Linked DNA regions of Homo sapiens: region 1 is linked to region 2. The links come from fine-mapping of genetic effects on gene expression. A gene starts in region 2. The other region holds a variant in brackets. All regions are shown on one strand. Distances are between the middles of the regions. Region 1 overlaps PARP11 (poly(ADP-ribose) polymerase family member 11). Region 2 holds the start of PARP11 (poly(ADP-ribose) polymerase family member 11).

Region 1 (2,922 bases), 29 kb before region 2:
GCACTGGTGTAAATATCATGGTGCCTACTCGAAAGAAATGTAGATGCTACGCATTTTGAAAATAATCTGCATCAGTCAGAACTGCAGAAGTTTTCTAAATGCCACTTTAACACTAATGCACTGACAGATTCTAAATATTTTGTGAGAAGAAATGTTAAAAATTTTTAGCTTGACAGGTTTCTAGAGTTACTGTGTGTGTATTTTTTTTCCCCTTGCACCATTGGTTATGTATCACTTTCACTTTACACTTGCATGTTCTCCTTGTCAGGGCTGGAACTATCGTATAGAAGATAATATGATTGTGACTTCTAGTTCTTTTCTAGAGGATGCTGCTAGAAAATGGTTTTGCTTTGTATTTTATAGCTTGTTACCCTTAGGTAGGTAACATCTTCCATTCTGCTTTCTTCCAGTCTTTGCAGTATTCACTAGAGGTTCCCTTTGCATGTTGTACTCTGTCCTCATTTGGAGATTGAACTCTGAATTAACACAGTATTCATTCATCTGTGTTATTTTGTAAAAATAACTGTAGCTTATATTCCTTATTTGTACATACCAATGTGAAAATCCACTCTTTTATTATGTTGAGATTATCTTCTGATCAGGAAGTTTGAGTGCTATGCAAATAACATAGTAGTAATTTCTCTTTGCATACCATGTGTAATACACCTAGCCAAAACCAGATGCGGTGACTTTCTTTTTTTGTAAAGCAAATTACTTAAGAAAATACAATTCACTTGAATTTGACAAACTGAAACAGATGAGTTTTCTGGGTTCTCTGATAACCTATGGGAATGTTTGGATGCCAGCTGGGCTCAGTGAATCGCCACTGTACTGTAATAATGGTTATTTACCTCTGTGCTGTTTTAATTACCTAACGTCCGTGTAACTGCTGATTTGAGTAGTGATTAGCATTTAGATAATGTAACAGGATTTTAGAGAGCACTTTGAAAGATAACATTTTATTATGATGGTGCTAGGTAAAAAATTGTAAAGACTGGGATGGTTGTGTGGAAAACATTTTTTGAGAGAATCTATTGAAAGGAATTTGTTGTCACCTTCTAAACTAGAATAGTTGTTGAAGGTACCGCTTAAGCCATTTCTTTCTTAACACTGGTGGCTCAGTTAAGGAATGAGAAGATAGAGGGTCCTCCACTTTCAGCTTATGCTTTTTTTTGTAGGACTAGCTTACCTGATTTTAATGAAAATCACATTTTGATAGAAACACCAGATTTGAAAGTTCAATGTGTTTGATCTCAGGAGTCCAAAATAAGTTGTTGCTGCATTTTATTGACTGGGGTTTTATCTCAGCTTCTGAAAATGTTTAAAAATTGGAAGGAAATACTATTCATATCTTCATTGTCACTTTGTCTTACCTCAATTGAGTAACAGAATATATAGCTCCTGAAGGAAACACTGATTTGCTTTCTGTTTCCCATATCTCACCTCTAGGATATGATGGAAGAAGTGCTTGAAAGAGAATTTTAGCAGA[T/C]GGTACTTTTCTCAGTGACCTCCGGAATAAAAGAACTGACTTTTGATAGTTTTAAAATTAATCTTTGCATGAAGGTTGGTTTCGCTTTTATCCTTTAAGTTTGTTTTTAAATGTATTAATTAGTCCACGGGATTTTGCCTTATGCTGAGGTCAAACTAAGGCTAAGCAAGCTTTTGTCCTTCATTTTAACTGTTTATGTCATACTGTATGTTGACATATTTCTTTATAAGAGAATAGAGGCAAAAGTATAGAACTGAGGATCATTTGCATTTTTGAGTTGGAAATTATGAAACTTCACCATATTATGATCATACATATTTTGAAGAACAGACTGACCAAAGCTCACCTGTTTTTTGTGTTAGGTGCTTTGGCTGAACTTTATTCCAGCCCCCTTTTCCCTTTGGTGTTGTGTATGTCTCTTCATTTCCTCTCAAATAAATCTTCAACTCTTGCCCCATGTCTCCTTGGCAGCAGGATGCTGGCATCTGTGTAGTCCTCATACTGTTTACTGATAACCCACAAATTCATTTTCATGGCAGACCTAAGCTCAGACCCTGCCTTGTCCTGGCAAGAGTAGGTTTCCCAGACCACAATGCCGATATATCTTATTTAATGCAGACTGTATTCTTGCAGTGTGTTGTTTCCTTTGTGACTCAAGGTTGAATTAAAATGCCTGTGAACTGCAAACTTGCTTATGATTGACTTGGTGCAATAAAGTTCCTTTCTAACCATTTCTGGTTTAGAAAACATTCAGCCATCCTAGAAACTAGCAATATTTATTTTGGCCTCTTTTGTTTTACCCTTCATTTTTAGATGAGGTAAATGTTTTGTCTTTTACTTAAGGATACTAAGCAAGGTCCACTCTAGTGTAGCTGAAGAGAATACGTATTTGGCTACACTATTTCTGTGTACTGTGTTTTGCTTCCTACTTTATGTCTAAATGCTATTGTTTTTGTTTAGAATCCTAATAATGTCTCATTTCCAATATGTTATTTTCAAATAACTAAGGTTTTGCTACTAGTGTCAGCCATTTACTCTCCCACTAATTGGGATTATTTTTTAAAAGAGGTCTTTCTCCCCGAAATACAAGTTTTAGAAAATCTTAGAAGAGGAGTGGGTGCATGTCTTAATGCTGGGAAGCAGCAACTTTGGGGTTGAACTTACTTGAATGGATTAAAAATTGCATTGTGTTACAGAGCTGAAAATTTTGTGTATGAAAAACGATAATAGCCTTACACTGAGTACAAATAATACTTTAAGAGCATGTGAAGATGTGATCATTTGTGATGTTACTTGTAAAAAAAGTATATATACGTATCTTTTGAAGTGTTAAAAGGAAACTAGTACTTTATATTCTTTATCATATCACTTTTTGTAAGTGTTGAATATATTCCTGTTTATTTTTCTATGTTCTGTTTTGTAGCCTTAAGAAG
Region 2 (2,922 bases):
CCCAGAAGTGAGTCACAGAAACCAGAATTCTTCCCCAAGGTGAGTGATAGAAACTAGGATCCCTCTCCTACAAAGCAAGCCATAAAAACTGGAACTATTAAGCTTTCCCTGCCATTGTCTATAGGAACTGGCCATAAAGAAATTCTCTAATCTACCTTGCCTGATAGTAGGTCGCTAAGACCCTCATTCCAGAAGGGACCTTCCTCCTCCGTAGGAGGAAGAAATGATACACAGAGAGGCCAAGAAGAATCTGAACAAACAGACCTTGCTGGGCTTCCTTCCTCAGTTTATTAACATTAGAGTATATCCTTTGTCCAGTCACATTTTTACACAGTTGTCTATTCTTCATGGGTCCTACGCATAAAAATAGAGATCTCCCTGGTCTCTGAAGTGCCTGGTGGTGTAAAACTTTGATTAGATTTGCTCTGCTTTTACCTTGTTAACCTATCTTCTGTTTTAAGGAGTGGTGGCTGTGATCCTTACAATGGGTGGTGAGGAAAGGTACTAAAGTTTTCGGCCCCTACGTTGCACTTTAAATAAATAAATGTATAAAAGCAAAGTAGACAAAGACACATGAAGTCATAATGAAAATACCAGAGTCAGCCAAGGAAGAAGGCAGACTTGCAGTTGAAATGCTCCAGATCACTTTGTCCACCGAACGAAAACATCTAAGAACATACAGTCCATACTCCAAGTTTTAAACGACTGTCCACCAAGAAGGGAAAAGGAGAACTGATGGCTCCTCTTAGGCCCATTCAAGACAAGGGGGTCCCAATTCCCTTGCTTTAGACTGGTGGGACTGGCAGGTAAACCTGAGGCAAATGACTGACTACAGGTTCCAAGGCCAGTTACTCCAATTAGAAAGCAAAACACAAAGTTTCAAAAAACAGTGAAGGCAGTCGGGAGGCTGAGGCACGACAATCGCTTTAACCCGGGAGACGGAGGTTGCGGTGGGCCGAGATCACGCCACTGCACTCCAGCCTGGACAACAGTGCGAGACTCCGTCTCAAAAACAACAACAACAACAAATGGTGAAGGGATGAGGCTGAAACATCACGGGAAGTAAAATAAATAATTGTAACAAGAAAACAATAAAGCATTGGAGAATCCACCCAGGCACTTCCACTGCTTAAAAAGGTACAGACTACAGAAGCCAAAAGGCCCGGGAACTCCGGTCCCGGAACTCAACACCCAGACTGAAGCGAGCGCGGGGAAGCAGTTCCGGTGACCCCCTCCCGCCCCTCTCTCATCAACCCCGCCCCCTGGGCCCGCCCCGTCCCGCCCGGCTACTCACTGGATTCGCTTCCCACATAACGGTGACAAAATCGAGCGGAGAGAGCCTGTGGGAAGGGGCTAGCCGCGGGGCCTGGGTGTTGGATTTTTTTTTTTCCCGCGGGTCCCCGGGAGCGAAGGGACGGAGATGCAACCTTTACGAAGGCCTTCCTCCTCCCCCTCCCTGTCACAAGCCAGCGTTTACAGACCACCCAACCTCCCGACTTCCGCCCGACGTTGGCCAGTCAGATCTGTCTCCGCCCCACTCCTACAAGCTCGCCCCGCCCCTGCACGCTTATCCATACGCGCGCGGGCGGTCGTCCTGGGCGGGGCTTGCGAGTCTGTGTCTGACGAAGGAGTTTAAAGGGTTTCTGGTCCAACTGTATCACCCAGTGATCTTAAAGCCACGGCTGGCTGTATTTCTTTCCTATGAAACAAATTTTTATTGATCACCGTGTAACGACCAAGAGTCACACAGGCCTGGCAATGGCATTTGGGAGAAACTTCATAATCTTTCAATATCTTCATCCTCAAAATGGAGATGGTAGTAATATCTCCCTATGAGTGAGATTATTGAAAGCATTTAGCACAGTATTTGGCACACAGAGTTCAATAAGTGACGGTTATTTGCTCACAAGGGAACCTTTACATACTATCCCTGCCCTCAAGATTTTATAATCTAGAAAAGAAAGCAAAAAGTAGTTTAGAAAAGTTAAAAAGTGCAATATGATTTATAGGTAATATGGTGAATAGAGAGTGCTATGCGAGCATATTTACCTAGAGTAGAGTGTCAGGAAAGCTCCCTCAAGATGTTTAAAACCATGAGGATGTATTCCTACTGATGTAAAGAGAGCTAACAGAGTGAAATAATCTTCCATGCAACAAAGGATCTACCCCATAGGAAATGAAAATTAAACAGCTCATTATAGATCCTTCTGGACTTTTCTATGCCTCTACACATTGAAAAAAATGTAATCAAAGAATACCTATAGATTTAGAACCTGATTTTTTTTTCACTTTAAAGATTATGTGGCTATCCTTCCATTCCATTAAGTTTAAATCTGTTTCATCATTTTATTTATTTATTTAGGCAGAACCTCGCTCTGTCGCCCAGGCTGGAGCGCAGTGGCGCCATTTTGGCTCACTGCAACCTCCGCCTCCCGAGTTCAAGCGATTCCCGTGCCTCAGGCTCCTGAGTAGCTGGGATTACAGATGTGCGCCACCACGTCCCGCGAATTTTTGTATTTTTAGTAGAGACAGGTTTTCGCCATGTTGGCCAGGCCAGTCTCGAACTCCTGACCCCAGGTGATCCACCTGCCTTGGCCTCCCAAAGTGCTGGGATTACAGGTGTGAGCCATCTTGCACCCGGCCATATTTTAAAGTAGACTCATGGCATTCCATAACTTATGCGTATACTACGTACACACAAATAGACACACACATTTGAAATAATCTACTGAATAGACGTTTGAGTGGTTTTCTATTTTTCACTATCCCAAAAAAATCCTTCAACAGGCATTTCTTCACATTTGTCCATTTACTTCTTGGAATTAATTCCTGGAAATAAAATAGTTTACTAAGAGATTATTTTTGCCAAATGGTTGACCAGTTGCCCCCATGTCATTTAGTGAATATTCTTTCCTCACTACT

What was found. PIP is the estimated chance that this variant, and not a neighbour inherited with it, causes the effect.
Region 1: its variant is fine-mapped to the expression of PARP11 in whole blood (TOPMed, PIP above 0.99).

What each region holds. Positions count from the first base shown.
Region 1 is chr12:3,843,263-3,846,184 of GRCh38, forward strand. All of the region lies in intron 1 of PARP11 (poly(ADP-ribose) polymerase family member 11), which reads right to left. It also overlaps the pseudogene OTUD4P1. Among named protein-coding and RNA genes, the nearest start is that of PARP11-AS1, 25 kb to the right of the region's middle. The variant T/C (reference allele first, on the strand shown) is at 1,490.
Region 2 is chr12:3,871,918-3,874,839 of GRCh38, forward strand. PARP11 (poly(ADP-ribose) polymerase family member 11) reads right to left here and starts at 1,482. Exons shown (of 8, transcript NM_020367.6): 1 at 1,295-1,482. The coding sequence starts at 1,312. PARP11-AS1 (PARP11 antisense RNA 1) reads left to right here. Exons shown (of 2, transcript NR_183432.1): 1 at 1-39. RefSeq lists a silencer at 1,150-1,259 and enhancers at 1,931-2,451, 2,452-2,922.